3 separate regions of the Homo sapiens genome follow, and regions 1 and 3 are each linked to region 2. The links come from fine-mapping of genetic effects on gene expression. A gene starts in region 2. Each other region holds a variant in brackets. All regions are shown on one strand. Distances are from middle to middle.

The links. PIP is the estimated chance that this variant, and not a neighbour inherited with it, causes the effect.
Region 1: its variant is fine-mapped to the expression of LINC00662 in whole blood (TOPMed, PIP above 0.99).
Region 3: its variant is fine-mapped to the expression of LINC00662 in unexposed skin (GTEx, PIP 0.99).

The regions. Positions count from the first base shown.
Region 1 is chr19:27,821,813-27,824,574 of GRCh38, forward strand. The region is part of intron 1 of LINC02987 (long intergenic non-protein coding RNA 2987); the gene reads left to right. Among named protein-coding and RNA genes, the nearest start is that of LINC00662, 29 kb to the left of the region's middle. The variant T/A (reference allele first, on the strand shown) is at 1,310.
Region 2 is chr19:27,792,545-27,795,306 of GRCh38, forward strand. LINC00662 (long intergenic non-protein coding RNA 662) reads right to left here and starts at 1,396. Exons shown (of 3, transcript NR_027301.1): 1 at 988-1,396; 2 at 456-688. LINC02987 (long intergenic non-protein coding RNA 2987) reads left to right here and starts at 887. Exons shown (of 7, transcript NR_146733.1): 1 at 887-1,065. RefSeq lists an enhancer at 1,129-1,608.
Region 3 is chr19:27,844,282-27,847,043 of GRCh38, forward strand. All of the region lies in intron 1 of LINC02987 (long intergenic non-protein coding RNA 2987), which reads left to right. Among named protein-coding and RNA genes, the nearest start is that of LINC00662, 52 kb to the left of the region's middle. The variant T/C (reference allele first, on the strand shown) is at 1,715.

The DNA.
Region 1 (2,762 bases), 29 kb after region 2:
GTTGCTGGCTTGAACACACCTGTAGGAGGTGACTGGAGACCCCTTTTGGGAGGTCTCACCTATCCAGGGGGAACAGGATTGGGGACCCACTTAAAGAAGCAGTCTAGCCCCACTTTCATAGAGCAGCCATGCTATGCTGGGGTACCACTTCTGCCCCTCATCAGGTTGTGCTCTCTAAAGCCTGGAGGCTGAAAAAGCTAAGTTGCTGAAACAGCAAAGTTGATGGCCCACCCCTATCTCTAGGAACTCTGTCCCAGAAAGTTTTCAAACTTCTGTTGGCCAGAGAACATCAGTGGAAGTGGCTGGAGGCCCTGGTTGGGAAGTCCCACTCAGAGATAAGGGGCATATCAGGATCCTACCTAAAGAAGCAGTCTGATCACATCATGGTAGAGCCACTGTGCTGTGCTGGGGGATTGCTTCTGCCCCCTGTATGGTTTGGGGTCTCCTAAGCCCACAGGCTGGAATGGCTGAGTTGTCCAAACAGCAAATGTGGTGGCCCACTTCTCCCACTGGACACTGCATCCAGGGAGAAAGCAAAATTCTGTCTGCTGGAGAATATGGAAGGGGCTGGCTGGAGGCCCGAGTAGGAGGCCCCACCCTGAGATGAGAAATGTGTCAGGGTCCCACTTAAACAAGCAGTCTGGCCACATTTTGGTAGAGCCACTGTGCTGTGCCAGGGCTTCCCTTCATCTGCCATCAGTTTTGCTTGGACTCTCCTAAACCCACAGGCTGGAAAGGCTGAGTCATCCAAACAGCAAGTATGGCAGTCTGCCTCTGTCTCCAGAACTTTGTCTCATCCCAGGTAGGTAAAACACTGTTACTGGGGGCTGGCTGGAATTCCAAGCCAGTGGGTCTTATCGGGTGAGGCATCATGGATGTGGGGCCCACAGACTGATGTTGTTCATCCCTGTGGTTTAGGCTTCCTTTCTGGGATTTTTATGGTGGTCCCACCTCCTGTTTTGTCCGAGTTGCAGTCACCTTTGCTGGAGATCCTGGAGCCGGAGTGTGTAAAGCTTCTGAGATTCTATTTGTCTGAGCAGTTTCTCTGGCAAGACCATGCAGCTCTGTGTGTCAGACCAAAGGCCCTGGTGAAATGGGTTCATGAGAAAATCTCCTGACCTGAGGGATAAAAAGATCCATGGGAGAAGTGTGGTTTCACAGGGTCACACATTCACTCACCACTTCCCTGGACAGGGTAGATTCCCTTCGCTCTGTGTCACTTCTAGGTGGGCAGTTGCCATGCCCTGCTCTTCTCCATTCTGCATGGGTTGAGTTGTTTCCTTCATTATTCCCAGTGCAAATACCTGGG[T/A]GTTTCAGCTGAAGGTGTTGTATTTACTCTCCTCCTTTGTTCCTTTCCATGAGAGCCACACACCATATTACTTCTAGTCAGCCATCCTGGCACCCTTTTCTGCTACAATATTTCAGTAGATGGTTTTTATCCTGTAGGCTGTCTCATGGGCCAAGATGGCTGTAGGACCGTCAGCCTACACCAGCAACCATGTGCATTTCAAAGATCAAGAAGGAGGAAAGATGCAAGGTCAAAGTGGCTCACACAGCTGTGTCAGCCTCATCTGAACAGTCTCCCCAAAGTCCCGTCAATACTTCTGGTTACACCCAATTGTCTTGAATGTTTTCTAGTCATTATTAGCTTCAATAGGGGTCAGGAACTATAACCATTGTGTATGGTAAGTTGCTGTTTGAATAAAACTGAATCTCTGTCTTTAAGAATGAAAGAAAAATAAAAACTATGGCAATAACCAGTGCTCTTTTTCTGCACTAAATTCAAAGATAACAAGGAGAAAATGGAGTTTGTCTCAGGTGAAGTGGCACTTATTTTCCAAGCAAAGCCTCTTTTGGTGTTTATTTATTTTCAGATCAGATGGGAAAAAGTCTTGGTTCTGACAAGCACTCTTTTTATGACCAAAGGTTAGTTAAGCTTAACTTAACTCTCTTCTTGACTTAGTCAACCTTGGCTTGTTGCCCTGCTCCTGGTCTGAGAAGCTTATTTTCAGAAATGCTGCTAAGATTGCTTAGTAAAAATCCACATATTTTTTACATCTACTAAAATCCTCATTCCCCTTCCCTGATATTTAAGTCCTTAGCCTGCCTGTAAACAGAATTCTGTTACAAAAAAAAATTCCTCCTCCTTTGGTATTTTATCAAATTTATTTCAGTAATTTTTTATCCACTGATTTATTTGCTTATTGATTATAAATCCTGAGTTGTCTGTGTTCAGAGTTATGATCGATTTCTGAACCGTATTACAATGGCCATAACATCTACTGCAATAGTGTTAAAGTCTTTCTTCCGAATTTTTAACAAATGTCATAATTTTTTTAATTTGACAGTTTCCCAACAGGATGTTTGAGTATAAAACCAGTTTTCAGTTCCTTCCCAAAAATGATGTCAACCACTGTGTAGTTGTATCTGCCTGACCCTTGCGTGTCTAAAAAAGTATGTTCTTATTTAAAGGGGTGAGGGTGGAAGATTATAGAGCTAACATTTTTCTAAAATGCTGAGTCATAATTGAAACCATACAAATAAAAGAGGTAGAATGCTTGGATTCCAACATTTTTAACCCTGAGGATACTTCAATGTCCATGATCCATATTACTGTGAAGATAATGCACAAAAAAGAAAACTGATGATTAAAATTGAACATGATACAACGTATCATTGACTAAAAACTAACATAAGAGAAAAATATTCTCAAAAACATTTGGGTATCCACAGTTTGACCCAGGAAAGTTGACTGGGTAGAT
Region 2 (2,762 bases):
AGAACTTTTAGTTTACAGAGTAGAAACAGAAGACAGCAATATAAACCATCCAATCTGAAGACTGAAACAAGTTTAAAGAAAATGAAAAGAGGCCTAAGAGACCTGTGAAATGATTGAGTCTGAGACAGAGAGGGAGAGACAGAAAAATTAAATATAATACAAAAACAAATAAACAATAGCTGAAAATTTAAAAACTTGGTCAAAACCGCAAATTCTTATATTCAAAAGGTGAACACACTCCAAAACAAAAACAAAAACAAATAAAACCATATCGAGGCCCTACTGTGATTTAGAAAACTGGCAGAGCAAGATTTTCCAGGGAGTTGCTATGATTTCTCATTTTCACTATTTATAATAATGGAAAATATGCACTCCTTAGTTTTCTTCTTGGAGAAAGTCTGACTTGTCAAACACAGATGACTTTTCAGTTTAGTTTTCAAGGTTTAATTTCTTACCTTGGAAATCAATTAAATTTGTTTCTTTAAAATGTCGCAGTAAAATTGCTCCTCCAGACAGATGTCCACGGAGATTCTGTCCTGCTGCGTCCGCCTTTCACAGAACTGAGGTTGTTCCTACACCAGTTTCAGAAGCGTGTAGGCACGCTTTATTACAGTGGCAGCAGCGTCCCTGTGCGAGGTCTAACCCAGGTGTGGGCCCTGCAGCCAGCCCGGGGGTCCAATGGGTCCTCCTATGGAGCACAGGAAGAATCGTGGCAGGCCAGAGATAGACAAAAGGTGGCTTTTAAAAGGGAAGTGTCAGGTTACCAGGGACTGGGTACTTTTACACGCGGACCTTCGGCCCTGCCCATAGAAAGGGGCAGCACTGCGCATCTCTGAAGGAGTGTGGCAAAGGGTGGGGCAATAAGAAGGGTGGGGCAGAAAGGAGTGGCCCCTCAGGAGGAAGGGGCGGGGAGATCCCAGCTACTAGAGGACGCCCGTTCCAATGGCAACTCTGCCAAGGCGCCTATGAGAGCCTCTTGGCTTTTACCTGGTCTGCGAGAAATCAAACTTTGGGCACAAGTCATGAAGCCGACAAGCCCGGGAGACACAGTGTCAGAATTACAAGGTGAGATCAGCCGCCCGGCCAAGCTATCTTCTCGCTAGCAGGTGAGGCCCGTGAACAGCCAAGCTCCCCTTGGCACGGCGGAACCGCAGTGGACGCGTGGAGGGGCTCCGTAGAGGAGGGACCTTTGCTTGGGATGCGGGGAGCTGTAGTCTCTTATCTGCACCCAGCTTGTTAGTTGTACGCCTGCAGGACTACAATCTCAGCACAAAGCAGGATTGTAGGGCGGTGCGGATCCCTGGAGGGAGACAGCGCGGTGCGCTCCTGCCGGCCATGCTGGCTGGGGTGGTGTCTTAGGCGGTTCCAGCCGTTAGTCACAGGGCGGCCGGACTACAATCCCAGCATACAACGGGAGTGGAGGTGGTGACCTTGAGAGAGGGCCTGTGCTGTGCGCGCCTCGCGGGGCATGCTGGGAGCAGTAGCATCTTAGCTGCTTCCGGCCGCTGGTCGCAGGGCTGCGGGACTACAATCTTCGCATGAAATGGAAGAGAGGGTGGTGCGGATAGCTTGAGGAAGGTACGGATACCTTGAGGGAGGTATGGATACGTTGAGGGAGGTACGGATACGTTGAGGGAGGTTACGGATACGTTAAGGGAGGTACAGCAGCGGTGCGCGCCTTGCAGGGCATGCTGAGAGGAACAGTTTTTTAACTGCTTCTGGCTGTTGGTGGCAGAGCTGCGGGACTACAATCCCAGTATGCTACGGGAGTGGGGATGATGCTGGTCCCTTGAGGGGGGGGGGCAGCGCGGTGCCCTCCTGCCGGGCATGCTGGTAATAGTGTCTTAGCTGCTTCCGGCCGTTGGTCGCAGGGCTATGGGACTACAGTCTCAGCATGCGCAGGGTTCAAGGGTGTTGCGCAGCCCCGCAGGGAGGGGCAGGGCGGTGTTGACCTCTGTTTCCAAACCCATGCTGGCTACTGAATCTGTGCCACCCCTGGCTAAGGGGAGTGAGTCCATAGAGGGACTTGAAGGGCAGGTCTGGGCTGGGCAGTGAGGAGAGTATGATACTGCAAAGTGCGCCTCGCCTTTGCCAAAATCGGTCGGGTCTCAGGCTCACCCCACCTCCCGCTGCTCAGTTCCGTTTCCCTCCAGAGCATCAAGCCTCCTCCCGCCCAGGGGGCCTCCTGCTTTCCTAAGCTGCTGTGGAATCGGCCTGAGGTCCCAGACGCTGTCCATTGTGCTGCTGCTCTCTGCTTTCTCCAGCCAGAGTGCCAGTTCATCCGCTTTTGGGAGAACTCCGCCGCCTGGCCTGCCCGCGGAAAAGGTCACAGCTTTGCAGGGGGTGACATGGGCTATGGCTTCCTGGAAATGTCACCCTCACTAGCGCCTTTTAGATAGATGTGAATTTTGAGACATGAGGGAGAGTAATTATTGGTTTACCCAGGAGATGCTAAGAGCAGAGGAGAAAACCCTAATTTCCAGGCATGTGTCCTGAGCCAGGGACAGGCTGGCCAGACCCTAAGCCCCCAGTGCCGCCAGAGAGCAGCCTACTGCCCTGATTTGTGTGGAATCCCCTTCGTGCTGCTGGGCCTTAGCGTCAGGGACAGCCCAGTCAGGTGAAGGTGGGGATGACCCATGGGCTTCTGGAAGTGGGTTGGTGGTCCTGGGAGGGCCAGCCCATCCCCCCTTGGAGAGGGTCTTTGTGCTGAAGGATGCCCACAGAGGCCTGGGTACCAGGAACACTGCTCTAGGCAAGGTGCC
Region 3 (2,762 bases), 52 kb after region 2:
TGAGAAGAGTACATCAACCCCCACAACAGAGACCTGGGAAGGGTAAATGGGTCCTAAAAATACAAGTAAAGCCGATTAGGTGGCTCCACTGTTGATTAAAAAAGAGATCGGTTTACCTGCTATTAGCAGAGTTACCCTGGGCTCCAATGCAGTGACGGCAGATGGGGCCGGGGGCCCTGGGCTCTGTCAGTCTCCAGCAGCCAGGCCAAGGAGGTGTGGGAGTGTGAGTGACTCTTCACTCTTTGATTTGCCAGGGCTTTGAGGAACCGGCCTGTTAGTCTACTTGTTAAGAGGACAATCAGACTTCCATTGACTGGTTTGTTGGCAGGCTGGGCAAGGAGTTTTTGGTATTCGTGGGTTAGGGCATGTTCAGGCCTAATGGCCTTCTTTGCCACACTTAAAACAGGGCCCAGGAGGGTCACTGCTATTGGGTCTTTTGAGCCTCTGGGCAGCCTGGGTAGATAGCTGCTGCTAGGAGCTGGTATTTAGCCTGATCTTGTTGGGCTTTATTTAATTTATTTTGCCCATCTCTGTTGTTGAAAACCTTGAAGGCCAGGATAAGAAGGTCTTGTAGAGGGTTTTGATGGCCATCTTCTACCTTTTTGAGCTTGCGCTGTATGTCAGGAGCAGACTGAGAGATGAAATGGGTATTAAGAACAATAGTTCCTTCCTGGGAGGTGGGGTCAACACTGGTGTATTTTTGGAGGGCCTCTGTAAAGCGGGAAAGAAATTTGGCAAGATTTTCATTGGCCCTTTGGGAGATTTTTTTTTTTGAGTTTTTTAAAGTTTACGGCCTTGTGGGCAGCTTCGTTAAGGCCTGCAATAAGGAAGTGATCATGTGGTTATGAGATGCCAGCCGGGCTCTGTGGGTTGGTACTCCCAGGAGGATTTTTCCCGGGGAAATGCAGCAGCCTTTATGGGCTTAGGAGGGTCTTGCCAATGAAGATCGTCAGCATGTGCCTGAGCTGCAAGCTGCACTCTTTTCTTTGTTTTTCTGGGAGGAAAGTAGAAGAAAGGATAATATAGAGATCATGCCAAGTGGGTTTATAAGATTGAGTGAGGTATTTGAACTTTTTGATGTAAGTGTCAGGATTGGAGGAAAAGGACCTGAGACCGTTCTTAATTTGGGAAAGGTTGGAGAGGGAGAAGGGAATGTGGATGTGAACGAATCCTTTAGCCTCAGCCACCTCTCGGAGGGGAAGTAAGGGGGCCGACTGTTGGGCATGCTGAGTCCGAGAGCAGGTATGAAGTGGAGATGGGGAGCAATCAGAATCAGAAGTTGGGTGGTTAGGAGAGAGGAGGGGAAAGAGGTAAGGCAGGAGCGGGAGCATATGGTGGAGGATTGTGATGATTTGGGGGAGGATTATGGTGTTGTCAGAGAGAAGGAAAGTTGGCAGGGTCAAAGAAGGAGGAATTGTCACTAGGAGTGGTGGAGGGGGGTGTTTGAGGATGGGTCGGGTTTGGAGCAGGCGAGGAGGATTTGGAAAGTAGAGCAGGACTGACAGAGGGAGGGACGGCTACAGAGGGCAAAAAAAAGCCTGAACATAAGGGATCTCTGACCACTTTCCATTGCGATGGCAGAAGTTGTCTAGGTCCCTGAGAATGTTGAAATTGAAAGTGCCATTTTCAGGCCATTGGGAGCCATTGTCTAGTTTATATTTTGGCCAGGGAGTGTTACAATAAAAGATGAGGTTTTTTTGGCCAAATTTTGGAA[T/C]GGAGGATAAGGGCATTAATGTTACAGAGGAGATACCCAAGGGGCGGGGGGGGGATGTCTTTGAGGGAGTGGATTGGGAGGCTCCCTTAGTGAAATGAGAAAGGGAGGGGTAGAGACAGGAGACTTGGCTAGAATGGTGGGAGAAGGCATCCCTTGTCCCACGGTTCAAGTCGGAGAAGTGCGATAATCCTCCGTTCAGGCATCCCCGAAAGGGAGATACCAAGGGCCTAGAGGCCGGGAGGAGGAAACCCTTGGCCCAGTGCTAGGTCTTTCAGGAAGGAAAGAGTAGACAAGGGTTCCAGACCGAAGGCAAAAGTCTCCTTTACTCACCCCTGAGGTGGTCCTGGTGTCGGATGTGTTCACCAAGCGATGGAAAGGCTGTATGAGATCCTTGGGTCTCTAGCAGGTTCTGGAAGGGGTAGTTCGGCCGGGGGAAGAATGGAGGGAAGGAGAAAGGGAGAAAGGGAGGCCAAACTCTACCACCTTCCTGAGTTTCAGCACCAGAAATGTAAGGTCAGCTGAGAGAAAGGATGAGGAGACCCAAAGTCAGACAAGCAAGCTTTATTGAGCTGCTTGGCTGCTCCATCACAGTTAGAGGAGGCAGCCCCACTTACAGACTATAGCAGGGTTTTACAGGGCCAGAACCAGGTCAGGGTCGGGGAGCTGAGTCGGGGCAGGAGAACTGGGTCCCAGTAGAGGAGCTGAGTTGGGGATGCAGGTGTCTCAACTGCATCCTGGAGATGTTTTTTGCCAGCTTTGTTATGCGAGGTTAAGAGATATGTTAACCGCATCCTATAACTGTCTGGACAAACAGATACTGGAGGGCTCAGTGAAGGCAGGGGTTTGTCTTTTGCCCTGGGGTAGCTGTGTGGAGAGCACAAGGGAGTGTATTGTGAGGCCTGTGGGAGGGGAAGGGTCTGGTCGGGGTGACCCTAACAGGGAGTTTTTTCAGACCCCCAATTAAACTTATTTAATCTTAAATGGTCCTGTTAAGAATTCCCTCATCATCTTGTCATGCTCCAAGGCAGGCCCAGGAAAGTCCTAGTGA